Homo sapiens: one gene and its partners. The protein of the gene in region 1 purifies or fractionates together with the protein of each later gene. This does not show direct contact. Each region holds a gene or a part of one and is shown in the gene's direction. Other genes may lie near its edges.

Region 1 (7,871 bases):
TGACATTCCCTTAAATGGCAACCTTTTATAAGCTTATGTTTTCTATCTGACGTCCTAGTAATAGTCATCAGATTGGTATTAAGGATTCGAAATAAATCTTCAGAGTCCTCTAATCAGAAATTTGAATTTTGCTGGGATGGTGTAGAATTTCTGCTCAGTTCCTACTGATTAGATTTCTTGAGACGCTTTTATGTGCAGCTTCCCTAGTTAAACAGCTGAGCCAGTTTAGATGAAGGAAGCTCCTGGAGGTGGCGGAGGCAGCTGAGGTGATTTTCAGCTGGTTTATGTTGCTTCCTATAATGGTACTTATTTTGAAACTGCCATCGTTTACAAGAATACTCTAAGAATGATTGACAGCAATAAGATTATTTTTGTTAATTAGGATTTTAAATTTCTTATTTTGGTTGGGAGATTAGAAGAAATAGCCTGTGAAAAGGTTCTTCCAAAGTGGAATGAAGTAAAATTTTAATGTCAAATGATTCCATGTGTCTAACATGAGTGTCAAGTGAAATTTTTAACATTCTCGGGATATTACCAAGAATTCATCTAAACTTTTGTTTATTGATATTCATCAAGAGATCGGATTAGTATTTTTACTCTTTTTTTTTCCCTCATACATTCTGTTCTGTTAAGTAAGATTGGAATATTCCTCAGCTTCTTTGGCTAAATAAAGAAGTACTATAAATCATGCACATAAGTTTCAATGGCGTTAGTGGAAACTCAATCCTTAGAGAGGCTACAATGTATGACATCTTAGATTGAGAGTCTCTATTGTTAACCATTTTGCTATTACTTTTGACCTAAATATATATTCATAATATATCTATGAAATACAAATACAACATCTTTAAAAACAATCCTTAAGCTAATTAGTCCCCAGGCTTAATTCTGAAATGTTTTTTGACTACTTTCTCATGCCTTAATTTGCTATTGTAATAAATTTATATCAGCCCTACAGATAAATTTTACCTTACTGCTCATAGTGTTTAAAAACCTTTTGATAGTGATTGGGCTGAAAAAGTAATTGCATCTTTTAAAATAAATGTTGAATTAGGTTTTAATGATGTAGCTAACAAGTTTTTATATCATTTCTGGTATTTTGTTTTAAGATACAATCATTGGTGCATTTACAGAGTGAATACCCTCTAAGGCAATAATATTTATTGCAGGCAAATTCTGAACTTGGGGGAATTTGGTCAGTAGGACAAAGAATCTGGCAGAGAGATTTCCCTGGGATCTATACAACCATCAACGCTCACCAGTGGTCTGAGACGGTCCAGCCAATTATGGAAGCACTTAGAGGTAGTGTTTCTTTGTGGTTAAAAATGAAATTAGATGAGACTTAGTCCCTAAGTGCTGCAGTGTTGAAGTAATAAATCAGTGGTGTGTGTTTAAGTAGATATTTTTGATAGGTGAAAAGAGCAGTTTTCAGAATTTTTTAGATTTGCCCTAATCATGCTTCTTCATTTTTTGTTGCTTGAGATTACATTGGCTGCTGTGCTTTTGTTGTTTCTTAATTCTAGACAGAAATTGCTCGTCAGTTTTAAGAGTTTTTTTTGCTATTAAAACGAGATCTTGTAATATTCTAATAAGTTTAAGGTATGGGTTTGTAGAGATGTGAAAATAGAGACTGCTCTTTGAATTTTGTCAGCCTCAGCCTTTGATAGGTGTTGTCTTAAGCTTCTGGATTTTATAATTTATCAGTTTAATACATAGATGCTCAAATGTGTTTTTAATTGCTTTGAAAGATTACAAGCCTGGTGTGACAGAGCACTGATCCCACAATAAAATCTCATTCCCTGCCTCTCTACAGTCTCTCACCCCTAGCATTTGCTTCCAGTCCTCCTGGTTCACTCTTTATAAAATTATATAATCTTGTTTTATGTTGTCATGTACTGTTATTTCTTATTGTTACCCTTACTTCCATAGTTAATATCCACCTTCACTGTATGCCTTCCTGCTGTGGAGGAAGTCAGTGAGCAGGAATTTTTTTAATAACTGTTCATCACTCTGCTAAGGGATATCAGCTTTACAGGGCAGCAGACAGCAGAGATTGTTTCTGAAATGCACATAATTCCCTTGGAATGGTAAAATTCTTAGCAGCATAAAACATAACAATGTAAGTGACAGAACAGGAGGCAGCTACTTTAAATGTGAATGAAATGAGCAGAGTCCTAAGGCAGGCAGATAGATGGGAAGGGAGGAGTGTGGAAGAAGATTGCACAGGTACAGCAGGGGCAGTTTCAGAAAGTAGCACCAGAAACCTCTTCATATAAGCCCTGAGGAATTAGCGTTATAGTGGACTTCCATAGTATCCTCGTGATTCAGCCTTGTGATTGTGGTGGGGCGGTCACAGGCCATGTGCCTTTTCCCAGTGTTTTACAGCGGGTTGATTGGCAGGACTGGGCTTGGGAACTCCTTACTCGTTCAGCAAGCATTCTCTTGTGCACCGTCGGGTCCGTAGTTTTATTCCTTCCCGGAGCCGCCTCTCACTGAATTCCATGAGATTGAGAATTCCTGGCAAGCAGTTCAGTAGACCCAGGAAAGGCTATATAGCGTACCATGCGGGAGTTTAAGCTCTGGGTCCTTGCTTCCGGAGTTCAAATTCTGATTCTGTCACTTACTAGGGTGACTCCTCAGTGTCTTATTTTCCTCATTTGTGAAATGTGATTAGAAATAGTACTTTTTCAGGTTGTAAATGAGTTAATATATAAACATGTACCTTATTCTAAAGCACTACAGTATTCCTGAACATATCCTGAGACTTTTACAAATCTCCAGATTCATGAATGGTACTGTGGTTTCCTTTGTAAAATGCAGCCAGGTCAGGATAGTCTCTTAACAGATTGGTCTTACTGATGAATTTAACATTTTGCTTCTTAACTTATTAGAAACTTATTTTCTAGTTGAGAACAATCACTTTCTTAGATCTCTTTCCATTCTCTTCTAAATTAGGCACAGTCCTATTAGAAAACTGAAAATGACTTAAGAGAAGCTAGTGAAAACTATTTTTGCAGGAAACAAGGGCTGAGGAAGTACTTAGAAACTAGGTAGACAGTAGCCATTCTCATCTGAGGCTTGAAAGGGCAAGGCGAGGGGCCAGTGTTACTGGGGCTGCCCCACAGGATGGATACAGAAGGTCAGCTGGAGCAAGGCAGGGAAAGGGCATAGGAAGTGAATTCCCTGACCTTCCTTCCCAGCCTCTGACCTGATAGAGCCCCAATTCGCCAAAGCAAGAGAGCTCAGGTGCAACAGGCATTGGCGGCCAACCTCCCTGGCACACAGCATGGCTGGGAAAGACAGAAGAGGATTCGAAAGGATGGGAGTGACTAGTTCATCTTCCCTTCTGTCTCCAGCACTGGCAGTGATGGATGAGCAGCACTTGAGTATTTGTTGAACAACTGAGTTTGCATTCTGTTAGCATTTGTTTTCACCAAAAATGTGTTCCATCAACTACTGCCACAGATATTAGGTGCTGGCTCAATTTATTCCACCTTCCAGCGTGTCATTCTAGGGCCTGAGGTTACAGATTTCACAACTTGAGGATCACAGAGTGACTAGTCGGAATGTAGATGTGATTCGTGCCAAGTGGATATTGCAGCTTCTGAGACAGAGAACACTTAGCCTTTATTTTTGCTTTGTCAACTCACTTCTCCCATCACATGTTTTTCTTTCCTTTTCCAGTGATATCTTTTTACTTTTCTCTCCCTTTTATCTCCTCCATTCTTACTGTATTCCTGTTTTATTCCCCACTCTGAAAATATGGCCAGAATATTTGAACTGAAGTAAATGTTTTTGAAATACAGTTGACTTACCAAATGAATATAGTTTTATGGTGTATACTTTTACTTCTCTAAAAAAAAAAAGTATACTTTCCATTGTTGGCTCTTTTCCATTGTTGGCTCAGTTCTTTTCCATTGAATGTATGCAGCCTTAATAGAAAACGTTTCTTGGTATTGCAAAGTCTGTTAGGTTACAGGCTGGTTGAAGGAAGGAAGGAACCTACAATAATAAGTGTAAAGCCACAGAAGGAAGAGCAGACAGTGGCTGAGTGAAAGCTGGAGAGGATGTCGGGCTCAGATGAGGGGAAGGGATGGGAGTGTCGGCAGTTTTTAAGGAATCTGAGAAAACAAAGCCTAAGTGTTGGAGTCGTGCCCCATTTTGGTCCTCGTGATGCCATCAACAAGCATGTATTTGGCATATATTTCACTGGAGATGCTAGGTGTTTGGGGGACTTTGAGGATAAGAGATACCCCTTCCTGTCGAGAAGTTTGGAATATAATTGAAAAGAAGGGGATAGGTGGAACAGTGTCTGCCGTAGTGGAAAGTTGCTTGTTAAAGTAGAAGTGTAAACAATACTGCTGAGTTTAGAGAAGGGCAGAGATCGTAATGAATTATAAACAGACTTAGGAATGGTAGAGAGCAGACAGGAGGGCATTTCAGGCCACGGGATAGCATAAACCAAAAGCCCCAGGGGGAGAAGGTGTAAGACTTGTCTGAGAGCCAGTGGACTCGTTTGGCACAAAGGGTATCTGGGGGAATTGGTGTAGTTTGACAATGTCCCAGGAATGGAGAGAAGATTTTAAATATGTTAGGGTGTTTGTTTTACATATGTACACTGGCCTATTAAATATGGAAAGTAAAATCCAGAATATTTCCTAAGCATGTTGACCACCAGGTGGAGGAGCTCTTGCATTACCAATGAGCAATGCCCAGGGAGAAAGGCCAGCTGGTTTCACAGTGCTCAACTCTACCGTACTCCTGAGTTTATTTAATTGGGTATGGAAGCCTGGGGACAATCCTAAATGCCACTTTCAGGAAAGTTTTCGTTGCTGGTATTGTTTGGCAGTCCCTTCTTAGAGTCATTCTTTCAAGGTGGGAATTTAGGATTTTGAACCTTAATTCAGTCAAGAGTTTGATGCAGACTTGGAAGAATGCTCCAGTTACAAGATTTGTTCTGTAACTCCCAGGTGTGGTCCTGTATTAGAGACGTTTTTGAAAAGGACAGCTGATTACGCAAATCAGTTTTCTGCTCCTTTGATTCCAGCATTTGTAAATGAAATAAGATAAGTAAAATTTATATCCCCATTGCATAAACATACTGCATTTTCTTAGGGTTAGAGCCTTGTGTTTAGTAACCTTTTTCCATCTTTGTAATTTTCATTATCTGAGATTTTTCATCCAAGAGGAAGTGTAAGAAATGTATTTTTTTCCAGCAATATTTGAACCCCCCGTACATACTGGGCATATGTATTTGTATCTATAAGCACAGAAATCTTTGGGTTCATCTGGCCTTGCTTATGAAAACTAGACAAGGACAGTGGTGTGATTTAACAATGTGCTTTGAAAATGCTGCTCCCTGGTTCACTCTCTGCCAACCCACCACTCCCACAATAGATGCAACAAGGAGACGCGCCTTTGCCCTGGTCTCTCAAGCGTATACTTCAATCATCGCCGATGATTTTGCAGCCTTTGTTGGACTTCCTGTAGAAGAGGCTGTGAAAGGTAATTTTGGCTTACTTTTTACTTATAAGGAAAATGGAAAATAGAAGTGTGAATTGTAGGTTCACAGTCTCCTCTGAAACACTTGGAACAGAATATGCTTTTGGAGTCCAGGCTGTGTTTTTTGAGAGGTGATATGAAACAGGTGTTGTGGAACACCCAGCAGGCACCCTGCAGTCAAGCATATTAATAGTTCTATAGCAAGCAAATGTGTGAGTATCCACACAGTTGGTTACAAAAATATGTCTTAATTGGTCTCTTTACTCATATTTGGAAATCCTTATTTCACCCTTATTTGATAAAGGCAGCATCATCCCCACGTCCCTTTTCATTTTCCCTGCCATTTCTGACCCATACCCTAGGCGCTTGCTTGCTCCCCACTCATACCTGCTGGTCTCTCCAAATGTAACTTTGCATTTTCATTTCTCAGCTGATGCCCAGACTAATCCTTCCTGTTGCTCGTTGTTATAGAATACTGTATACACCTGGCCAGGTGCAGTGGCTCACACCTGTAATCCCAGCACTTTGGGAGGCCGAGGCGGGTGGATCATGATGAGGTCAGGAGTTCGAGACCAGCCTGGCCAACATGGTGAAAGCCCGTCTCTACTAAAAATACAAAAAATTAGCCAGGTGTGGTGGCAGGCACCTGTAATCCCAACTACTCAGGAGGCTGAGGCAGGAGAATCGCATGAATCCAGGAGGTGGAGGTTGCAGTGAGCTGAGACTGTGCCACTGCACTCTAGCCTGGGCAACACAGTGAGATTCCATATCAAAAATATATATATATATCGTATACACCTTGTTGCATTGTTTTGCCATGATTGACATTTTTGATTCTCCAGCTAAAATATGAGCACCATCACGCACTACATCCTAAATTTCCAGGGCCTAGCATAGTTGTAGATACATGAAGATAGGTTAATGAAAGTTCTAAGTTATTACTTTTATTTACTCATACAAACATTTATTTCTTTTGGCTCTTAAAATTGGTCCATCATTTATTTTCTATATATAACATACTTCAGAGCTCGTATTCTCAGCTGACCACCTGGATGTGAATGCTGGTACCACCCGTCCCTGATGCTAGTGGCTATGTGACTTAGGACAAATCACTTGAATTTCCCTCAACTTTATTTTCCATACCTGTCAAACGATGGCCCTATATCCCACTTCATAGAGTTGTGGTGATTACATAAAATCATCCCTATAAAAGCACGTAGTCTGGTACCTACAGGTAAACCTTCCATATATGGAAGCTGTTTTTATTATTGCCATCTTTGTTATTACTGATATGATGGTCACAAAAGGCGCCATATCAGTTTTCCTTCTGTTTGTTTTAAATAATACTGATTAGGTTAATACTATAATATATTCTTGACAGAAAACTAACCATCTTTTAATGATTATAGCAACCTAATAGAGTAAAATGAGGCTTTGATACCTGTTTCAGAAATATTTCAATAATAAGTTTCCATGCTCTTTGTAATATACCTTTCTAGTAAAAATGCATATGACGGGTTATACTAAACACATCAGGTCTTCTGTACAACTAATGTCATGGACAAGTTGTGGATTTTGTGGGGTGTTTTATTCTTTCCGGATCTTTATGTGTAATATACTTTTTTAGGCATATTAGAACAAGGATGGCAAGCTGATTCCACCACAAGAATGGTTCTGCCCAGAAAGCCAGGTAGGTGGAGCTTTCACCCATTTACGCAGCACTGGACTCTTCTAAGACTGCTTCAGGTTTTCAGTCTTTGGTTTTTGATAATTGGATGTAAAATTCGGCTATACTAACACAATGGAAATAACTCATTTTAAATAAAGCGTAGTAGACGGGGTAGAAAGGATCACCTAGTTTAAACTCTTAAAAATGTATTTCCTGTATATAAATGATTTTACGTAGGTTTTTCATGGTCCTTACACCTTAGTTTTTACTAAATATTAATCTCCATCCTTTTATGGAGCCATTTGTAACTGAGCTTATCCTTCATATCCAAGCTGTTGTCTGTATTAAAAAAAAATGTTTAAATATTCAACTGCCCCCCTTTTCTGTTTGCACTCAAGTCATACAGGCACTTTTCCTGTGGCTTCCACTTTCACAGAGTTAACTTCTCTAGCCCTCCTTTTAAGGCCTTAATTTCTATGACCTGCCCTCATTGTCTTTATCTGAATTCCCAGCCCCTCAGTCTTCCTGTTGGAAGTGAGCCACACTCATTCCCGCCTGATAGTTTCTCTTCCTCCTGCTGACCAGGAGTGTCTTTTCTGCCAGGTCTTTAGAGCCAAGCTTAATGCCCACTTCCATAAACCCGCCTTCATCCACGTCAGCCCAAATTTCCTTCCACCTACTCGGAATGCCTATGTTTAGA
Region 2 (6,867 bases), on another chromosome or scaffold:
CACACGTGCTTTGGAGGGAAAGTCCCCAGATTCCATGTTGTGCAGTTTGAGCCTCCCATTCCATCAAGGGAATAAAGTTGAGATGCACTAAATAGTCGAACACTTAAGAGTCTGGTGGAAGTGCCACTGTCCATCAGCCCACATTTGCCCCCTTCCCTGCAGAGGTGAGGTGCCGTCCTCAGGGCCCTGGGAAGCTCCAAAAGCACCATCAGGTTCACTGCCCCTTCCTCCCACCAGCTGGAGCAAGTCTCCTGTTGCCACTGCAAACAATCAGGCCCAGCGCGAAGCAGAGGTGAGCAAGAGTGGAGTGTGGCAGACCAGGGCACCTGCTCTGCTCTCGGGTAGAGAGTGGCAGACCAGGGCGCCCACTCTGCTCTCAGGGGTAGAGTGTGGCAGACCAGGGCGCCCGCTCTGCTCTCGGGTAGTTGGGTTTTTTTTTTCTTTGAGATGGAGTCTTGCTGTCCCCCAGGATGGAGTGCAGTGGCACGATCTCGGCTCACTGTAACCTCTGCCTCTCGGGTTCAAGCAGTTCTCCTGCCTCAGCCTCCTGAGTAGCTGGGCTTACAGGCACGCGCCACCACACCCAGCTAATTTTTGTATTTTTAGTAGAGACAGGGTTTTACCGTGTGGTCAGGCTGGTCTCAAACTCCTGACCTCGTGATCCGCCTGCCTCAACCTCCCAAAGTGCTGGGATTACAGGCGTGAGCCACCGCGCCCAGCCTCAGCCACATCTTGTAAAATGTGTGGCTTATCACTGAATAGAAGGTGAAGTTTGTTTGGAAAATAGAGGGTCTCCCTTGTATAGGGAGAGCCTTGCACGTAAGTGCTCACACAGATTTTCTTCCTAATACAGCAGAGCTGGAGTGGCTGTTCCCTCTGGGCAGAGACAGGCTGTGGCTGTGGATTCGTCTCCTCAGTCACCTACTCTTAGTGCAGGAACACTGGGGATTGTAGTTTCACTTACGTGGACATGGCATGCAATAACTATGTAAATACACGAGAATAAAACTACAGGCCAGGCGCACTGCCTCACGCCAGCGATCCCAGCACTTTGGGAGCTGAGGCAGGCGGATTGATTGAGCCCAGGAATTTGAGACCAGCCTGGGCAACATAGTGAGACCCCTTCTCTACAAAAAATAAAATTAGCCAGGCATGGTGGTGTGCAGCCTGTGATCCCAGCTACTGGGGAGGCTGAAGCACGAAGATTGCTTGAGTCCAGGAGGTGGAGGCTGCAGTGAGCTGAGATCGCACCACTGCACTCCAGCCTGGGCGACAAAATGAGACCCCATCTCAAAATAAATAAACAAAATAAAATACACTACTTAGGCAGAAGCATCCTTTCAAAGGATAAAAGTTGCCCCAGTAAGACATGTTGAGATTTTCCTTTCAAATAAAAATGTGTCACGTGATCGGGTCTGCCTCACTTATACGTGCCCTTGCTGATGGCAGATGTCGGATCTGCCTCGCTTATACGTGCCCTTGCTGATGGCAGATGTCGGATCTGCCTCGCTTATACGTGCCCTTGCTGATGGCAGATGTCGGATCTGCCTCGCTTATACGTGCCCTTGCTGATGGCAGATGTCGGATCTGCCTCGCTTATACGTGCCCTTGCTGATGGCAGATGTCGGGTCTGCCTCGCTTATACGTGCCCTTGCTGATGGCAGATGTCGGGTCTGCCTCGCTTATACGTGCCCTTGCTGATGGCAGATGTCGGGTCTGCCTCGCTTATACGTGCCCTTGCTGATGGCAGATGTCGGGTCTGCCTCACTTATACGTGCCCTTGCTGATGGCAGATGTCGGATCTGCCTCGCTTATACGTGCCCTTACTGATGGCAGATGATGTATGTACATTTCACAAGTTTCACGTTTCCCTCAGGAAACCACACTCTGACCATAAACTCACATGGACGCTTTTTTTATCAAGAGATAACGTTAACTTTGTCTTTAAAATAGAAAGTTTTGTTCATTTCATAAATATGTGTATAATTATAAATGATTTTCATATAAATATCTATTTGTATATATATTTCTATAAGTATAGTTACATACTTCATGCATATACCCCTTGTATGTAAATGTTTGTAAATTTAATGCCATTGTAATTAGGGGGGTTTTATTCTTCTTTTTTAGCCTGGAGATTTGAAAAAGAGAATTGAATCTCTGATAGACAGAGACTATATGGAGAGAGACAAAGACAATCCGAATCAGTACCACTACGTGGCCTGACGCATCTGCAGACGGTTCCCCTTCATGAAACACTAGAATGTACCCTCAGAGCAGGAAGCACACCTGTGCCATTTCTGGGACTCTGATTGATCCAGCTGTGGACATTGGAAGGCGAAGGAAGGGAGGTGGCTCCTGGGTCATCTTTCACAAGGCTCAAGACTTCAACCTGCAGATGTATCTTTTTCCCTCCAGTTTTTCCTCTAGTTCTTTTAGGCATTTAAATTGTTTCTGTTACTCTGTGCAAAATAACTTTGAGATTGGACAAGAAGATGTTACTAAAGAGAAGTTCCTTTAAAAGGTCTTGTTCTTGTGTCAAAAAGCTGCAAGTTTGGTTTGTTCTCGTGTGTGATCATGAGTGCACAATGAAGAAGACCCTAGATGCTGCATTTTTTAGCTCTGAAGATTCCTTAGGTATCCCTGAAGACAGCTCGCTCAGATGATCAGCATTTAGAGTGAAAACAAGGGCCCTTCATGGGTGAACATTAGAAAGAGCCAGGGTTCAAAGCTGGCGAATGGATGACGCACCCTAGCCACTGGCCCCTCTCTGTTTCATGTATTTCCAAAAGTTGTAAACTTTGATGGCTGATTTTTCGTAAGTCAGGTTTCTAAGTGAGCTCCCTGAGGTGCCAAGGCCATGGTGTCCGCCCTGCTGCGTCTGTTCGTCAGCTGAGTTCCTTGTGAATCTCTGTTTTAGGGTTTGGGGCTAGTGTGTTTGTGTTTCCATTCTAAGATTGAGTCTGGCAGTCCCTGTTTTTTTGCATTGGGGTAACTGCTCTTTGATTTTTTTTAATTGCAGTATTTGTGTGATTGCAATAATAAAGTTTGGTTTGGTTTTTACAGTCATGCGCAGGGACGATCCTTGTTCTCTGCTGTAAACTGTAAAAAGTTTATGGAGACTTAAAGTCTTGATGTTGTGAAGCAGAGGTTATTTTGTGGAAAGATTAAAAGGATTTTGTTGGTACCTGGTTTTGTGTTGTGTATATATACATGAGGTTGAACAGTGAAAGGAAAGTTCAGTAGTGATGTTAGAAGGGTAACTATGACAAAGATACTTTTGAGATAACATTTAAAAGTACTTTATATTTTACATAATAGCATGTTTCATTTTGATTAAAAGCTACCAAAGGAATTTTGATCATGGCATAAGTGTTTAAAGCAATATTTTCTGGAATATACCAAGTTTATATAATTTGATTTTGTGCTAAATTATTAAGAGTCTCTTTTTGAAACATGCGGGTTTGAAATATGACACCTTGTGGGTTTCCATATTAAAATCCTCACTCTTTAATTGTCATTTCTATCTTTGAAAATTTTCATTTATGAGTTCCATGATATGTGGTCTAAGAAAGACCAAACAGATTTCTATTTTTTTTTTCTTATAAGTTCGTTGTGTCTAGAGATTGTTAATATTGTAATTTAATGTAGACTTACTTTGAATAAAATTAGTTTAATTGGCCTTAAAATTACATTAATAAAACTTTGTGATATGCAAATGACACATTCTTCATAACTCTTTAGCAGCTTTGACTACTAGTGCACTAGACAGAAGTCAGAGCAGGGAGCACCTGTCCCCTCTCAAGTGATTATTCTTTCCTGGCCACCTCTACCACAAAATACCAGTGGGGCCAGGTAGTGACAAGTGGGTCTTTTTTACTTGGACGATTCGTTGTGCTGTGCCTTTGTTTCATTTGAGCACAGTGGCTCACGCCTGTAGTCCCAGCTATGGGAGGGCAAGGTGGGAGGATCGTTTGAGCCTGAGTTCCAGACCATCCTGAGCACCATAGGGAGATCCTGTTTCCATTTTAGTTTATTTATTTTTAATTGAGGTGGAGTCTTGCTCTGTTGCCCAAGCTGGAGTGCAGTGGTGCAATCTCAGCTCACTGCACCCTCCGCCTCCTGGGTTCAAGCAGTTCTCCCACCTCAGTCTCCCAAGTAGCTGGGATTACAGGCACCCGCCATCATGCCCAGCTAATATTTGTATTTTTGTAGAGACGGGGTTTCACTATGTTGGCCAGACTGGTCTTGAACTCCTAACCTCAGGTGATCTGCCCGCCTTGGCCTCCCAAAGTGCTGGGATTACAGGCGTGAGCCACCATGCCCGGCCTGCCTGTTTCTGTTTTATAAAAGAAAGGAAAATCTATTTATATCTATTCTCTTATTTAGCAATATTTAATGTTTTATTGTTAAAGGTCAGTGTGGTAAAACAAATAGTATAGAAGAAATCATTGAAAAAGAAACAGCACTTAGACAGAAATGCTGTAAAAGTGGAAAGGAGAAGGTGAAATTACTTGCAGGTTAGATGGTTGCATACCCAGGTCATCTAAGGAGCAAATGAAAATCTGTGACTGAAGAAAGAATTCACCAAGTTAACCAGACACAAAATTAACAAAAACATCAGTAGCTTTCCTATAAATATAGGCTATAATGGAGGGTCATTTTTTATTTTTATTTAGAGACAGGGTCTTAACTGTCACCTGGACTGGAGTGCAGTGGCATGATCATGTTTCACGGCAGCCTCTACCTTCTGGGCTCAAGCGATCCTCTCTTCTCAGCCACCTGAGTAGCTGGGCCTACAGGTGTACATCACCACGCCCAGATAATTTTTATTGTATTTTTTATAGAGGCAGTGTCTTGCTATGTTGCCAAGGCTGTTCTTGTACTCCTGGCCTCAAGCGAACCTCCTACCTCAGCCTCCCCAAATGCTGGGATTACAGGCATGAGACACTGCACCTGACCAGAAGTCATTTTTTCAATAGCAACCCCCAAAAAAGATAAAATACCTAGTAACAAATAGGGAAACACCTATGTGAAAGGTATTATAACATTACTAAGGAACACAGGCCCTGAATAAGTGAAAGTTCTGTTGATTCTCACATTTTGCTATACAGTATCTTAAGATGTAAAACCTTCCTTTAAAACACAAGCGGATTCTAAAGTTAAAACAGAAAAGCAAATATGCCAGACTAGTCAAATTGTTTTAAATTCTGCTGTTTTTAGAACATTGTAATTGAAACAGCATGATGCTGGCCCTTTAAAAAGATTCCTGGAACAAGAAAGTCCACAAATAAGCCAAATACACAGGAACTCGGCGTGGCACAAAGGGGCCGTGTGTGATCAGGAACTGGAACTTTGCAACAACTACCCATGCTCAGAAGTTTGGGCCACCTTGAAAAGAGAAAAGTTGGATTAGACTCCTTTTTATACTAAGGGAAGTTCCAAGTGGTCAAGTATTTACGTGTAAAAAAATACATATATATGAAACCATAATCATAAGATACTTTTTTTGTAAATTGACTATTATTGTATAAATTTATAGAGTATAAAGTGATCTTATAAATTATGCATACATTGTGGACTAGTCAAGCTAGTTACATCCATCACCTCAAATACTTAACATTTTTGTAGTGAGAACATCTGAAATTTACTCTTAGCAATTTTGAAATGTACAATACTCAATTTTTGACTGTATTCACCATGCTGTACAATAGAACTCAGAAAAAGAAAAATATAGTCCTCCTTTCTAAGATTTTTGGACCCGTTGCCCCTTTATTTGTGTTTTTCCACTAAGTGATCTAGTGAATTCACATCGATTTTTTTAAAAAAGGATTGACATTAAATGACATCTTTTAAAGTCAACATGGGGGAAAACAAGGTTAAAAAAACTGGAACCCTTGCCGGGCACCATGGCTCATCCCTGTAATCCCAGCACTTTGGGAGTCTGAGGCGGGCGGATCACGAGGTCAGGAGATCGAGACCATCCTGGCTAACACAGTGAAACCCCGTCTGTACTGAAAATACAAAAAAAAAAGCCCAACGTGGCGGCAGGCGTCTGTAGTCCCAGTTGCTGGGGAGGCTGAGGCAGGAGAATGGCGTGAACCCGGGAGGCGGAGCTTACAGTGAGCTGAGATCACGCCACTGCTCTCCAGCCTGGATGACAGAGCAAAACTCCATCTCAAAAAAAAAAAAAAACTGGAACCATCTTGGATAAAATGTACGACAAAGTACTGATGAGTTTAATGTTAACAGAACTAGAAGTCAGCAAGAAGACCAGCAACAAGCCTTCGGATAAGTGAGTTCTTCATTAGCTTTAAGAGAGTGGGAGCAGAGGAAACGGGTACCGTGAGGGCAGACCTGCTTTCAAGAACAGATGAACAGCGGCTGAGAATGACTCCAAGAGGTCGCAGGAGCAGAGCTGCATTTCAGTGGCAGGTGACTGGGCATTGTCCTGCAGCAAGGCCCTAATATCCCAGGAGAGGGCAGGATCGAGGGCACAGGGAGTGGGGGCAGGTGAGGGCTGGCCATAGGTGTGGTGCCGGGGGAGACATTGGTTGTGACGGTGACCATGGCCCTAGGCTGGAGGGTGGGGGGGTCATGTAACATGAAGATTTAGGAGGTAAGCTTGGAGGGCGCAGCTGTTGGCAATGATGGTCTGGGTGAGGACAGACGGGGAACTGGGGCCAGAGCATGGGAGACAAGACCTGATGGTCGTCCAGCAGTCAGGGACGGTGACAGGAGCCAGTGATGGAGGCCCTGAGTGCAGGACAGCCCTGAGGCCTGGAGGTGGGCCAGCCAGTGAGAAGGGCGCACCCCCGCCGGGGTGTCCAGCAGCATGGAAGGAGCATGGCCTGGAAGCAGCAATGG
Region 3 (7,871 bases), on another chromosome or scaffold:
CAGAAAGCAGATGTTGTTGCCCAGTCAAGGATCTCCTTCCCTGAGAAAGAGCTGCTTTTGTTGATACGAAACCATCTTATTTCTAAAGGGCTTGGAGAAACAGCAACCGTGCTGACAAAAGAGGCTGACCTGCCCATGACTGCTGCCTCCCATTCTTCTGCCTTTACCCCAGTCACTGCTGCTGCTTCTCCTGTCTCTCTACCCCGAACCCCTCGTATCGCTAATGGCATTGCAACTCGTCTGGGCAGCCATGCTGCTGTGGGTGCCTCTGCGCCTTCTGCCCCTACTGCTCATCCTCAGCCACGGCCCCCCCAGGGTCCGCTAGCTCTGCCCGGCCCATCTTATGCAGGCAACTCCCCTTTGATTGGTAGAATCAGTTTTATCAGAGAGAGGCCATCACCCTGCAATGGCAGGAAAATCAGAGTGTTGCGGCAGAAGTCGGACCATGGTGCCTACAGCCAAAGCCCAGCCATAAAAAAACAGCTGGACAGACATCTTCCTTCCCCACCTACGCTGGACAGTATAATCACAGAGTATCTTAGAGAACAACATGCTCGCTGCAAGAATCCAGTTGCCACCTGCCCACCTTTCTCCCTCTTTACTCCTCACCAATGTCCTGAGCCAAAACAGAGGCGGCAAGCGCCAATAAACTTTACGTCAAGGCTAAACCGCAGGGCATCATTTCCAAAGTATGGAGGGGTGGATGGCGGATGCTTTGATAGGCACCTTATCTTTAGCAGGTAAGAAGAGGCCCCTTCTTACTCCCTGGGAATTGGAATGATTCTTTTATTTAAATCAAACTGGGCAGTATCAGCATAGTTGTCCTGAAATACCACTGATTGTTACTTTGTGTAATACTTGAACAATGTAATTGTACCACCTTTTGTCAACCATGGGTTCCTTGTGTGATTGTTGGCAGTATATTGATATAATCGTTTGTGTTCTCATCTCAACTAGTATGTTTTCTAGAACCCACACCCCCTCATTACTACTGTCCATAAGGAGGCTCCCAAACTTGTGCTGGTGCAAGTTGCTTCCTGTTCTGATTCTTGACAAATCTTACATAAAGGTTACGGGATCACAGGTTTTAAACATGGGAATTTTTTTTTTTTTTGGAGACGGAGTCTCTCTATCGCCCAGGCTGGAGTACAGTGGTGCTATCTTGGCTCACTGCAACCTCTGCCTCCTAGGTTCGAGTGATTCTCCTGCCTCAGCCTCCTGAGTAGCTGGGATTACAGGCAGGCACCACCATATCTAGCTAATTTTTGCATTTTTAGTAGAGATGGGGTTTTACCATGTTGGCCAGGCTGGTCTTGAATTCCTGACCTCAATTGATACCCCCCCTTCGGCCTCCCAAAGTGCTAGGATTATAGGCATGAGCCACTGTGTCTGGCCTAAACATGGGAATTTTTGTTATTTAAATTTGTAAGTGGAAATCTTTTTCTTATTTAAAATAAAAAGCACTGAAGGTCACTGTGATTTTGGAAGAAGCCATTTGAAACATTAATGTTCTGTGCTTTTTCTTCTATCCTAGCAGTTTGCTTTTTCTGAGTCCCTGCACATTCTTTGCCTGTGATTCTCTCTTTTTTTTGCTTAGATTCCGTCCTATTTCAGTGTTCCGGGAAGCCAATGAAGATGAGAGTGGCTTCACCTGCTGTGCATTCTCAGCACGGGAGCGGTTCCTGATGCTTGGCACCTGCACAGGGCAGCTGAAGCTCTATAATGTGTTTAGTGGACAGGAGGAGGCCAGCTATAACTGTCACAACTCAGCCATCACACATCTTGAACCTTCCAGGGTAAGGGTTCCTTCCTAGGATGCTCTCAGTCATTCTTCCAAGATGAATTGGTGAACTAGAGTAAAGGAGGCTTACCCTTTATTGAGCTCTCTCTTTTAAATGAGTCCTCAACTGGAAAGTCTAGTTGAGGTTAATTCATATTTCAGATGGAGACTGAGGAATATGGCAAAGTTAGTAGGAAGAAAGGAACCATCTTTGACATCTTCTCATTTTCCCCCCTCCCTTTTATCTATTCTATTTTTGTGGCTAGTTCAGTAGGATTTAATATTCTCTTAAGTTTGGTTATTTTATAGGACACTATAGGTGTATGTATTCAAATCCTAGTGGCTTCTGACCATTTCTTGGTTTCTGGGGATTATAAAATTGTCTCTTTAATTCAACAACATTTTTATGCAAATCTTTAAAAATGCTAATGGCAGGTAGTGACATCTGCATGTATGTAAATACGTGGTTACCCACCTTGCGCCTTTTTCTTTTAGGATGGGTCCTTGCTGCTGACATCTGCTACTTGGAGCCAGCCTTTGTCTGCACTTTGGGGAATGAAGTCAGTATTTGATATGAAGTATGTATCTGCTTTTGGAACCTAGTCTGTGCTTTATTTACCTAGTTTATACCCCCCTTCATTTGGTTCTTAGACTGGAAGCCTTTTGGGGAAAGAGGATGCTGTCGGTTATTGTTAACTTCTCTCTTCCTCATCTAAGACTCATGTTTAATAAGACTTTATCTTTCTTAATTCCTAGATACTTTTATGAGGTATATACATTCTCATTATGCAGCAGACCCCGACCCAGAATCTATGTATTTTCCCATGTTCACATAGGACATTGCAGTCTTTGCTGTGTCTCCTCTCCTCTCCTCTCCCCTCCCCTCCCCCCTCACCTCCCCTCCTTTTCTCTCTCCTCTCTTCTCCTCTCCTTTCCTTTCCTTTCCTTTTTTTTTTCTTTTTTTTATTTTTTGTGAGACAGAGTCTCGTTCTGTCGCCCAGGCTGGAGTGCAGTGGCGCGATCTCAGCCTACTGCAAGCTCCGCCTCCCGGGTTCACACCGTTCTCCTGCCTTAGCCTCCCGAGCAGCTGGGACTAGAGGCGCCCGCCACCACACCTGGCTAATATTTTATATTTTTAGTAGAGACAGCGTTTCACTGTGTTAGCCAGGATGGTGTTGATCTCCTGACCTTGTGATCCGCTGGCCTTGGCCTCCCAAAGTGCTGGGATTACAGGCCTGAGCCACCGCACCTGGCCTTTTCTTTTCTTTCCTTCTTTAGACGGGGTCTCATTCTGTCACTTAGGTTGGAGTGCGGTGGCACAAACATGACCTACTGCAACCTCCACCTCCCAGGCTCAAGTGATCCTCTCATCTCAGCCTGCTGAGTAGCTGGGACCACAGGCATATGCCACCACGCCTGGCTAATTTTTTGCATTTTTGATAGAGATAGGGTTTCGACATGTTGCCCAGGGTGGTCTCGAACTCCTGAGCTTAGACAATCCACCTGCCTCAGCCTCTCAAAGTGCTGGGATTGTAGGAGTGAGCTACCATGCCTGGCCCCTTTGCTGCGTGTTTCAAAGGCACATGTGCCCTGTTTGTCATTTCTCTAAGGAATTCCCATTCATTATTTTGTATCTGCTTGGTTAAGGTGATAGAAGGAATTTTCTTTGTAATCTAAGTGTATGATTGTTTCCTCTTTGGGAGTCCAGGATCTTTAGGTGAGTGTGATTGTGCAAGAGGCTGGGGGTCACCTGTGTTTCAGTTGGTTGCAGGAATATGTCCTGAAGATCTGTCACTTCAGTGCTCCTGTTGTTTGTCCATAGGCATTCCTTCACAGAAGATCACTATGTTGAGTTCAGTAAGCACTCCCAGGATCGGGTCATCGGCACAAAAGGAGACATTGCCCACGTAAGTACTTAAGAACCACTGTTTTCAAGCTGATCATACCCATTTGTTCATACTGAAATCTTCTTGATAGAATGTGAGGACCTAAGTCCTTTGGGCAACTAGAAATCAGTGATATTCCTTCTAGTTAGAATCTAAAAGTATGATAATATAGTTCTGAGCTGTATGGGAAAAATGTATAAGGGCTAAATGTGACATTGAGAAAGATGTCATTAGCACCACAGATATTTTTGAATTCTTAGTAAGTTTTAGATTAGAAATGAAACCCCTGCCTTTATGGACCCTCATTGGGGAGACAATAAAGAAGCAAATATACGGTAAATTTAGGTGGTAAGTGTTTCAGAGAAAATGAAAGCAGGGTAAGAGGTAGGAAATGCTTGGTGGTGGTGTGGGGGACTTCTCTTTTATCTAGGGTAGACAGCATCACTGATGGGGTAATGTTTAAGCAGAGCCTTGAAGGAAACGCGAGATTCAGGAAGATACCTGGAGGAACAGCGTAAGGCACAGGAAATGGCAAGGGAAAAGCCCTTGCTTGGGAGGTGGGAGGAGAGCTGAGGTCAGTGAGGGGCCTGTATCTGGTAGCATCTTGTAGGTGGTAGTTAGGGCCTTTAGCTTTTTTTTTGAGTGAGATGAAGACACTGGTGGGTGAGTAGAGGATACATGAGTGGATGTAAAGTTCCTGAAGTGTGACTCTGGTTTTTGTGAGAGAAGCAAGAGCAGCCTTCCAGGTCAGAGGGTGTTGTACCACCTGACACATGAGAGGAGCTGTGGGTTTGGGCCTGGGTAGGCATGGTAGAGGCTATGAGAAATGGAGGACCTTGGCCCTGGGATTTTGGACACATGAAATTTGAGATTCTCTTAGACATTCAAGTAGAGAATGGGGATTGAATACAAAAGTTGGGAGCTGGCCAGACTTAGTGGCTTCTGCCTGTAATCCCAGCACTTTGGGAGGCTGAGGTGGGAGGCCAGGAGTTCGAGACCAGCCTGGGCAACATAGAGAGACTCCCCCCATCTCTACAAAAAATAAACAAAATTGGCTGAGCTTGGTGGGCTTGGGACCTATAGTCCCAGCTACTCAGGAAGCTGAGACGGGAGGGTTGCTTGAGCCCATGAGTTGGAGGCTGCTGTGAGCTATGATTATGTCACTGTACTCCAGCCTGAGTAACCAAGTGAGACCCTGTCTCTGAAAATAAAAACAACAAAAAATTGGGAGTTCAAGAGAGAGGTGTGGGTTGGGAAATATAAATATGGGACTTGTCCACATATTGACAGTATTTATTTATTTATTTATTTTTGAGACAGGGTCTTGTTCTGTCACCCAGGCTGCAGTGCAGTGGCACGATCACAGCTCACCACAGCCTTGACTGCCTGGACTCAAGCAATCCTCTTACCTCAGCCTCCTGAGTAGCTGGGACTACAGGCGAGCACCATCACACCTGGCTAATTTTTTTGTATTTTTGTAGAGACGGCATTTCCCCAACGTTGCCCAGGCTGGTCTCGAACTCCTGGGCTCAAGTGATCCACTTTTCTTGGTGTCCCAAAATGTTGGCATTGCAGGCATGAGTCACTGTCCCCAGCTGATAGTATTTACAGCCATGAACTTATATGAGATCATCAAGGGGACTAGAGAAGAGTTGTGGGTATAGAACCCTGGCATGTGTTTAGGAGTTGCCAAATGAGGAACTTGGGAAGGAAATCAAATATAATGGCCAGTAAGGCAGAATGGAACCCCGAGAAAAAGAGGTGCCTGGCCGGGTGCGGTGGCTCACGCCTGTAATCCCAGCACTTTGGGAGGCAGTATTCTGTGGTAATCATTGATCCATGTGGAGAATTTGTGTGTTAATTTTAGAAACTGCTTTGCACATTTTCTCTTTAATTTGTCAGTGGATGGATTGGTCTGATTTTTCTCTTCCCATCCCTTCTTCTCTAAAGATTTATGATATTCAGACTGGCAACAAGCTGTTGACTCTGTTTAACCCAGATCTTGCCAACAACTACAAGAGGAACTGTGCCACCTTTAATCCTACAGATGATCTTGTCTTAAATGATGGCGTCCTCTGGGATGTCCGCTCTGCACAGGCCATCCACAAGTTTGACAAGTTCAATATGAACATCAGTGGTGTTTTCCATCCAAATGGACTGGAGGTGATCATTAATACTGAGATTGTATCCTTTATACTCATGTCTTACCTTCCATTTGTTGTCTGGTTTGTGGTGCAGAAATAATTTGTTCTATCTTTATACCAATACCTGGTTAAAGTGTCCACACTGGTAATAATATGGTGCCTGTCCTTTGGTTTGAAATGTTAGTGAAATCTCCAAAGCACTGTTGCCAATGTTAGTAATTACTGACAACTTTCACTAGCATGTTTTCTATGTATTTGGTAAGAGTGACCAGTTTCCTACCTCCCAGTTCTCCAAGAATTGAATTAGCTTTTATCTGTCTTCAGAAGGATTTTACTTTTGCTCTGTAAAAAATCAGTTGCCACATAAGAGGAAAATGAAGTACTACTGTTGGGAGGAAAAGAGCTCATAAAGCATTCCTGTATATGAGGATACCCTAGGATATTTTCAGAGACATCATTCAATAATATGCATTCTACATGTATTTGTTTTACCTTGATCTCATTGACTTTTAAAGTATCAATACCTGGCAGGAGGAAAAAAAGTGATATTTTAGAATTTCCTCCCATGAGATTAGATAAGTTTTGTGTAAAATAGTTTTCCTTGACCATTCCCCTCCTAGTGGGACCTTCGAACTTTTCATCTTTTGCATACTGTTCCCGCTCTGGATCAGTGTCGCGTGGTGTTCAATCACACGGGAACAGTGATGTATGGAGGTAATAAACCTTATCCTTCATTATTCTCTTTCCTTTTGCTCTACCCCTTCACTTAATTTGATACTTCTTTTTGGAACCATCTCTCACTTGTGAATTGGAAAGCATTTGAGAGTTGTAACATAAAAGATAAAAAATTGATAGTATGAATGGTGACAAAAGATATGAAAATAATGTTGGTTTAGGGTGAAAGGCAGCTTACTTTGAAGATAACAAGGAAATCTTGTATGGAAAGAAATTTCATGCAGTATTTTCCAGTGTATCATTATGAACTTAAGAGCTTTTGCATTTGTCCTCTTGTGTTGTTATAAGCCTTGTAAGTACAGTAACACTTCTTGGAGGTAGATGAGAGGCTGAGGATATTATTTGTCACAATAGGTGGGATATGCAAGGAAGATGCTCTGAGAGGAGCTAACTAGATGCAGAGTAGATTTCTGTACAAGGGAATTTGTATGTAAACCTATATGCAAGTAGATTGTTTTGATTGGCCATTAACATTTTCTGCACTTGTGAAGAGGGGATGTTTGTGATTCCTAATAGTGTTTCCTCCCCCACTCCCCCTCAAGCTATGTTGCAGGCAGATGATGAAGATGACTTAATGGAAGAGAGGATGAAAAGCCCCTTTGGGTCATCCTTCCGAACATTTAATGCAACTGACTACAAACCTATAGGTAAGCAGAAAGGGACAGACATTGAACATTTTGTCGTGTTTTGGTGTTCCTTATTTAAGATCCTTCATTTTCTGGAGGCCTGTAATTTTTTATTGAAAAACAGAGAAGTTATGGAAATACTTTTGAGCAATCATCCTGAATTCCTTTAGAGGAAAAGCAGGTTTTAGGGTCACAGCAATAGTCCAATCCCAATCTTCTCACATTCTATTTTCCAGCAACCATTGATGTGAAACGGAACATCTTTGACCTGTGTACAGACACCAAAGACTGCTATCTTGCTGTCATTGAGGTAAAGGGAGCTTGCAGAGGCCCTGCTCTTTTGTTCTGATGTTTAGGATAATTTTCAAGTTGTACTACAGACATTTTGTCTGATATAAGATGTAAAGTCAATACATTCCTGAAGGTAGATTATTGATAACCTATTCATTTGATGGGGCTTGGGAGATGTACAGTACAAAGAGAAATAGTAAGAAAATCCCAATATAAGACAGCTTAGAGGATCCTGTCTCCTTTTTTTCTGGACTCACACTGTCATCCCTTTCTCAGAGGAATCTGGATCTCTCACCAGAGCAAGACTGGTTTGTTCCAAGGGTGATGGTTCCTCACCAAGTCTTTTCATTCTGTTTTTCTTCCCCTTTATGTGTCCTAGGTATAACATTTTCATAGTCAGCTCAAGAAT
Region 4 (7,871 bases), on another chromosome or scaffold:
ATTATGTAATAAATGTAATAATTTATATAATATAAAAAATCAGCTATATCTGATTTTTTTTTTTTTTTTTTTTTTTTTGAGACAGAGTCTCACTCTGTCGCCCAGGCTGGAGTGCAGCGGCGTGCTCTTGGCTCGCTGCAACCTCCGCCTCCCAGATTCAAGTGATTCTCCTGCCTCAGACTCCTGAGTAGCTGGGATTACAGGCGCTCATCACCACACCTGGCTAATTTTTTTGTACTTTTAGTAGAGACAGGGTTTCACCATGTTGGTCAGGCTGGTCTCGGACTCCTGACCTTGTGGTCCGCCCGCCTCAGCCTCCCAAAGTGCTGGGATTACAGGCGTGAGCCACTGCGCCCGGCCTCTCTGATTTTTAAAAAAACAAAAAACATGCATTACTTTTATAGGCAGGAAAGATAATAAATATGTATATTTTATTTAATTAATTAATTTTTTTGAGATGGAGTCTCGCTCCGTCGCCCAGGCTGGAGTGCAATGGCATGATCTTGGCTCATTGCAACCCCTGCCTCCCAGGTTCAAGCAATTCTGCCTCAGCCTCCCAAGTAGCTGGGATTGCAGGTGTGTGCCATCACATCCAGCTAATTTTTGTATTTTTAGTAGAGACGGGGTGTCACCATGTTGGCCTCCTGGTCTTGAGCTCCTGACCTCAGATAATCTGCTTGCCCCGGCCTCCCGAAGTGCTGGGATTACAGGTGTGAGTCACCGCGCCCGGCCATTAATCAGGCTTTTTGTTTTTGTTTTTTGAGACGGAGTCCCGCTCTGTGGCCCAGGCTATAATGCAGTGGCGCGATCTCTGTTCACTATAACCTCTGCCTCCTGGGTTCAAGCGATTCTCCTGCCTCAGCCTCCTGAGTAGCTGGGACTACAGGCATCCGCCCCCACACCTGGCTAATTTTTGTATTTTTAGTAGAGACGAGGTTTCACTATGTTGGCCGGCTGGTCTCGAACTCCTGAGCTCGTGATCCACCTGCCTTGGCCTCCCAAAGTGCTGGGATTATAGACACGAGCCACCACCCTTGGCCCCGTGTTTTTTACAGCAACATTAATTTCATAGATCCAGGGCAATGTAGTCAAAACCCAATAATTTCATTTTAATTCCGAAAGTCACTGTCTTGAAGAGTATGATGGAAAGACTTTAATGACCAGCAAGACTTATTGTAAAACCTATAGTAATTAAGACAGTGAGGCATTGGTACAAGGACAGACAGATATCCTAATAAAATAAGAGATCCTAGAAACAACCCAAGCATATGTGGCCACTTGATGTAAGACCAAGGTGGCGCTGCAGAGCGGCAGGTAAAAGATGGTCTTTTCAACACGCATTGCTCAGTCAATTGGATATCCATTTCAGAAGAAAATGAAATTTGATCACTACCTCAAGATACCATATACAAAATCAATTCACTATTGAGTTTTTTCTCTAAATGTACAAGGTAAAAAAATAACACTTCTAGAAGATAATATAGAAGAATATCTTCATAACCTTGAGACAGGGAAAGATATTTTAAATAGGACACAAAAAGCCCTAACCACAAAGGAACGATTGATCCAGTGAACTACATTAAAATGAAAAACTTTGGATTATTAAAAGGCCATTAAGAGGGAGGAAGATTGCTTGAGCTCAGGAGTACAAGACCAGCCTGGGCAACATGACAGTATCCCATCTCTGCAAAAAAATACAAGCATTAGCCAGGCGGGGTGGTGTGCACCTGTGGTCCCATCTACTTGGGAGGCTGAGGTGGGAGGATCACTTGAATCTGGGAGGTGGTGGTTGCAGTGAGCCGAGATCCTGCCACTGCACTCCAGCCTGGGTGACAGAGTAAGACCCTGTCTCAAAAAAAGCCATTAAAACCACTGGATCATCAGAAGACAGTTATAGGGTAATGTACCTGCAATACTAAAGATTTATATCCAAAATATAAAATGCTCAAAAAACAGGCACTGCAGAATAGAAGATACCCAGATGGCCAATAAACATAGAAAGAAGTGTGAAGTAGCAGGAACTTGTTGAACACTGAAGTGAGAGTATAAATTGATGCAACTACTTTGGGAAACTGGCACTGACCGCTAAGTGGGATATATTATGCATATTTTATGATCCAGCAGTTCTCCTAAACATATAACCACCCCCCAGCTTTACCTCCCCACTGCCAATGCCTGGACATATATACAAAAAGACATACAGGAATGTTCATAGTAGTGTTTGTAATAGCTCCATAAACTGGAACAGCTCAAATGTCCAGTTACTGTAGAATAGTACAGTATATTCATACAATGGAATATTATAGAGGAGTGGAAATGAACAAATTAAAGCCATGCACAACAACATAGATGATCCTTATACACATGTTGAACACAAGAAGCCAGACACGAAAGAATTGTGTGATCCCATTTTTATACGTAGTTCAAACTCATCTGTGATTTAGAAGTCACAGCAGTGGTTACCTTTGCAGAGGAGCAAGAGTGTGTGATTGGAAGGAGGCATGAAGGGGACTCCTGGGTGTAGGTAATGCCTGTTTCTTATCCTGCGTGTGATTACATGGGTGTGTTGTGTGTTCACTTGTGATAATTCAGTAAGATATACACTTATGGTTTGTATACTTTTCTGTATATGTATGATGCTTTAATGAAACGTTTAAAATTAAACCTACTACACTGAGAGATCATTATTCACCTCCCAGTGTTAGAGATCAAAACATTTGGCAACACATTGTTGGCAAAGGAACTCTCTGCTGTTGGCAGCTGTGGTTAGAAGGATCTGTCTACAAGATTAAACTTTGACACAGTAACCTCACTTTTGGGAACTTATATTGCATATATTCTTGCTCATGTATAAGATTATTGATTGCAACATTGCAATATCAAGAGACTGGAAACCACCTAAATTTCCATCAGTTGTTAAGAAATTATATCCACATAATGGAGTACTGTGCAGCTGTAAAATACATAGAAATGCTTTGTGTACTGATAGGAAAAGACCACTAAGTTAAAATGTGTTCTGAAGCTACAAATAATATACAAAATACAGTACACTGTATTAAAAGGGGCAAAGGGAAGAATATATGTATTCACTTGAATTTGCACAAAATATCTTTGGGAAGATGTTAAATAACCACATCCCTTTCCTGTGGGGAGAGGGGCTTGGGTGGCTGGGAGGTGGGCATGGGGGACTTTTCTCTGGGTGCTCTGCACTTGGATCCGTATATTGTACTCCTGCACTTGGATCCATATATTACCTAATAAATGAAAATATTTGGGAGTTAACCCTCAGATGTCTTTTTCCTCTCAGACATGGCAAATATGTACGTCTTACTCCGTGCTGTGTCCACTGGTTTACCTCATATGATTCAGGAGCTGCAAAACCACATCCATGATGAGGGCCTTCGAGCAACCAGCAACCTTACTCAGGAAAACGTGAGTTGTGTGGGAAACTGCAATGTTTTCCTCCTAATCAGATCCAGCGTGGAGCCTTTCCTTTGACTTTATTGTTTTGAAAGATGAAAGAAAAAGTCTTACCATGCCAACGAAAGAAATGTCTTTATTCAAATGTTTTAAACCTAGAATTTGTTGGACTCATTTTGGAATTATCAGATTATTAGAAAGCTATTGATAGGCTGCTGCTTAGCCATACGGAGGGTGTCCATTGAACAGTTGTTAACTTTCCACAGGAAAATAAGCTCGCCATTTTTAAATAACTGTGTTTTTGTGTAATTGGCATTGATAACGTAGTTTGTTGTCATGGTAGTAGTATTAATCAGTGGTAATATAGACGACTTGCAATTTGCCTCCTTTCCATATCCTCTGAATTTGGTTGTCCAGGAAGCAAATTTAGATTAAAATAATCTTCTGTAAGTATATGCTTGCTGCCCCAAATACCCAAAACAATAACCCTCATATCCCTAATACTCATCTTTCTCGAATACTTTGCCAATCACATGACTGTAACAGTTTGTACTGTAACAGTTTGTCTTTCCCATCACCAAATCTTGTTATTACTGGTAATGTTTGATGAGCAAGAGAGAAATAACTTCAAATGTTACTGTCTCTTCTTAAGTAGAGCTGTTTGCCCTTCATCTATAAGATAGTATCTGTGTATAGACGTCACTGTTCAGGAGCACTTTTTAGAGGCTGTTACCTTAGCTGCAGATTGGTTTTTGGCAAGTAATAATTTTTAGTTTTTATGTTATGCCACAATAATGTGTAAGTTTTCTATTTTTTTATTTCTTCAAATTCCCTTTACCACAGTTTTCTATTTTTTGTAGAACTATTAGTTTATAGTATTCAGGTTTATTACTCTATTATTTGTCAAACTTACTAGTTTACATTATTACGTTTATAGATTCCATGTCCAATGACATTGGGCATAGAAGCATCGAATTTTGTGTCAAGGCTGGGAGATGGAAACATAAGTGAATACATTTGTGGTAGACTCAAATCCAACTGACTTAGTTAAGTCTTAGGTAGTAACTTCTTCATGGTTATCTCCATTAAGAGGGAAAACTCACTTTTGTACTATTAGGTATTTCTTCTCTCTGAGATGTGAGGGATTGTCTTGCCGAGTTCAAGGGGTCTCTGTTCTCAGGATTATTGGCTTTTTAACTCTCCTTTCTCTCAGCCTTTAGTGACTTTGCAGGCAGTCTTTGCTTATTTAAGCCTCTATGAAAGTGATAGACCTGGTAGTTCAGGTCTTGTTATCCTTAAGATAAGTTATTCCAACACAGTAGAAAAGTATGCTTTTGGTGGGTTCTTCTGACAGGTACTAGACAGTCTATGACAGCTTGTTGTGTTGAATGACAAGCTATTTTCTTTCTTCCTTTTTTTTTTTTTTTGTTGTTGTTGTTGTTTTTCTGAGACGGAGTCTCACTCTGTCGCCCAAGCTGGAGTGCAGTGGTGCGATCTCTGCTCACTGCAACCTCCACCTCCCTGGTTCCAGCAGTTCCCCTGCCTCAGCCTCCCGTGTAGCTGGGATTACAGGTGGACGCCACCACGTCTGGCTAATTTTTTTGTATTTTTAGTAGAGACGGGGTTTCACCGTGTTGGCCAGGATGGTCTCGATCTCCTGACCTCATGATCCGCCCGCCTCAGCCTCCCAGAAGTGCTGGGATTACAGGTGTGAGCCACTGTGCCCAGCCTTCAACACCAAAGTTGTAAATTTCTAAGACCGTCTTAGCTAAAACCATTTTCTGAGAAGTGTGCATGTGTGAAACATAATTTCCTTGAGGAAAAATTTACTAATAAGTCTAATAAACCTCATAGTTTGGATATCCTTGAACCTCTTAAAATGTGGTTTTGTACTTATATTTCATTTTTAGATGCCAACACTATTTGTGGAGTCAGTTTTGGAAGTGCATGGTAAATTTGTTCAGCTTATCAACACTGTTTTGAATGGTGATCAGCATTTTATGAGTGCGTTGGATAAGGTAAGTTTTAAATACATATATACTATATATGTACATAAAACTCTATCATTCTTTAGGCAGTTTCAAGATCAGAATTCTAGTATGAGGTTTCTGATGTAGACATGGAGATTAAGTAATTTTGATATGAAATTCAAAATAGAAATAATATAATTTTTAAATTATTAACTGAATAGTTAAATTGAATGCTTGTAGAATGTCCCGTGATTATGCTATATAAGGGGAATTTTTAATCTGATATGTTCTGGATAGACATGCATAATTTTGCAATTTTTAGTACTGATTTTTTTTCTTTGGCCATAATACTTAGGCTATATTGAATAATATTTGAAAAGAGAATAGATATGTTTTACATGAACTTTTGCATACGTTAAAGGAAAGCTGCTTACAAGATTGTAAGTTTTTTTTTAAGTAACGTTATTTTATCTGTTCAAATTTCGATAATGAGTTACAGAATATCTTGGAATAGCAACAGGATATATAGATATTTTGTAATTAGAGAATAAAGTCAGAGGAGTCTACCATGTTAGGCATGAAAATATTAACAAACTACCGGCAATGCTGTGTTTTATGTGGCGGGGTAATTTTTGGATGTACAGATTATGGCTTATATTGAACTAGCTGTACTTTTTCCCTATGGCTGGTGGTTAATTATGGCGTGTTTTTTTATTCAGGCCCTTACGTCAGTTGTAAATTACAGAGAACCTAAGTCTGTTTGCAAAGCACCTGAACTGGTAAGTTTGGTGGTTGCTGAAAAGTAATCTTATGAAAAGTCAGTATTAGAAAATGAGAACTCAGAATATCAAATTAATTTGGTTTTTGTAGCATTTTTCAGAAAAATAGAAGGAAAATTATCTACATTGTATATAGTTTGGCATTTATGTAAGGAATGCAATATACTATGTGTCTTAAAGAATAACCATTTTACAAAGTTTGGGTTTTAATGTATATCTACTTTGAAATAATTTGCAATACTTTTCATGTAGATTCTGTTACATCTGAAATCTAAAGGAAATCTGATGATAAAGTTTGGGTAACCTTTGAAGGAAACTTGCTTACAAGATTTTTGTAACTTTTTTTTAAAGTACTTGTTCAATGTCAAAAATTATAAAACCACTCGAAACTCACCTAGGTGTTCTTTTAAAAATTTGTATTACTTATATCAGTTGCTTTATTGGTCAATAAGTGATGATTTGATATTTGACTTGTTCTTTTTAAAAATTTACCTTATGATGTATATTTTATTTAGTTTACATTTATGATTATTACATAAAGCTTTAGAAGCCTGGTGTGGTTGTGCATGCCTGTAGTCCCAACTACTTGGGAGGCTGAGGCAGGAGGATCCTTTGAGCCTAGGAGTTTGAGGCTGCAGTGAGCTATGATCTTGTCCACTGCAATCCAGCCTGGCAACAGAGCAAGACCCGGTCTCTAAAAAAAACAGCAAAAATTCTGTCCGCTGATCTTACCTTGTATCACCACTTTGCCTCCTTTGAGGCGTGATATATACAGAAGCACCCTTTGTAAGATTTATTATCAATTTCTACATGAGCTTGCTAAGTACTGTGACAACTTACTGAAGAAGTCAGCGAAAGGGATGACAGAGAATGAAGTGGAAGACAGGCTCACGAGCTTCATCACAGTGTTCAAATACATTGATGACAAGGACGTCTTTCAAAAGGTATGTTGTGAACAGAAAAGTTTCATTTGTATTTTGGTCAACTTTATTTCTGAATGCTAAATCATTAGAAAGGAAGTAATCTTTTAAAATATTTTTAAATGTAGTTCTACGCAAGAATGCTGGCAAAACGTTTAATTCATGGGTTATCCATGTCTATGGACTCTGAAGAAGCCATGATCAACAAATTAAAGGTAATGTAAGTCTTTAATGTGGTATTGTCCTAGAAATTCATTCACAAGCACATAAAGATGTTCATTGCAGCATTGTGTACAGTAACAGGAAACAATTCATCTGGTTAAATGTGTATTTGTGTAGTCACACAGTGGGATATACAAATACTGTATTAAAAGGACAAAATGTATATGTTTATATATGAAGATTCACAAGATAATCAGTATTAATGATAAAAGATTATTACTACTTATAAATGAATACACCTAAAATATTCCTTTAAGTACAGATTTTGGAGTGCAATTCCATTTCAATTTATTTTTACATCATTTCAGCTTGCTTACATACCGATAAGTGGTAGCAGGTTCATATTTATCCTGTGTTATTCAATAAATTTTCTTGCATAGTAGACATTTTGAATATAATATGCATTCCTTTTTTCCTTTTTCTTTTTTTAAGAGATAGGGTCTCACTATGTTGCCCAGGCTGGACTCTAACTCCTGGGCTCAAGCGATCCTCCCGCCTCAGCCTCCTGAGCAGCTGGGACAATAGGTGTGCACCACTGCACCCAGTTGCTGTGTGCTCTT

Evidence for each region.
Region 2: the proteins of COPS8 (region 1) and CUL4A purify together in Homo sapiens (affinity purification with mass spectrometry; 11 studies listed by BioGRID and IntAct, with this or other methods). This does not show direct contact.
Region 3: the proteins of COPS8 (region 1) and DCAF1 purify together in Homo sapiens (affinity purification with mass spectrometry; 5 studies listed by BioGRID and IntAct, with this or other methods). This does not show direct contact.
Region 4: the proteins of COPS8 (region 1) and CUL2 purify together in Homo sapiens (affinity purification with mass spectrometry; 5 studies listed by BioGRID and IntAct, with this or other methods). This does not show direct contact.

Annotation. Positions count from the first base shown.
Region 1 is NC_000002.12:237,088,693-237,096,563, forward strand, and holds part of COPS8 (COP9 signalosome complex subunit 8), read left to right. Parts: intron 1-1,169; coding exon 1,170-1,302; intron 1,303-5,397; coding exon 5,398-5,505; intron 5,506-7,129; coding exon 7,130-7,192; intron 7,193-7,871. UniProt on the Homo sapiens protein: Component of the COP9 signalosome complex (CSN), a complex involved in various cellular and developmental processes.
Region 2 is NC_000013.11:113,261,357-113,268,223, forward strand, and holds the end of CUL4A (cullin-4A), read left to right. Parts: intron 1-1,563; exon of another isoform or gene 1,564-1,643; intron 1,644-2,130; coding exon 2,131-2,226; 3' UTR 2,227-5,752; downstream 5,753-6,867. UniProt on the Homo sapiens protein: Core component of multiple cullin-RING-based E3 ubiquitin-protein ligase complexes which mediate the ubiquitination of target proteins. As a scaffold protein may contribute to catalysis through positioning of the substrate and the ubiquitin-conjugating enzyme.
Region 3 is NC_000003.12:51,412,603-51,420,473, reverse strand, and holds part of DCAF1 (DDB1- and CUL4-associated factor 1), read left to right. Parts: coding exon 1-740; intron 741-1,597; coding exon 1,598-1,796; intron 1,797-2,275; coding exon 2,276-2,358; intron 2,359-3,602; coding exon 3,603-3,687; intron 3,688-5,616; coding exon 5,617-5,850; intron 5,851-6,430; coding exon 6,431-6,524; intron 6,525-7,087; coding exon 7,088-7,192; intron 7,193-7,407; coding exon 7,408-7,481; intron 7,482-7,871. UniProt on the Homo sapiens protein: Acts both as a substrate recognition component of E3 ubiquitin-protein ligase complexes and as an atypical serine/threonine-protein kinase, playing key roles in various processes such as cell cycle, telomerase regulation and histone modification.
Region 4 is NC_000010.11:35,030,733-35,038,603, reverse strand, and holds part of CUL2 (cullin-2), read left to right. Parts: intron 1-3,307; coding exon 3,308-3,432; intron 3,433-5,330; coding exon 5,331-5,438; intron 5,439-6,109; coding exon 6,110-6,169; intron 6,170-6,984; coding exon 6,985-7,113; intron 7,114-7,217; coding exon 7,218-7,304; intron 7,305-7,871.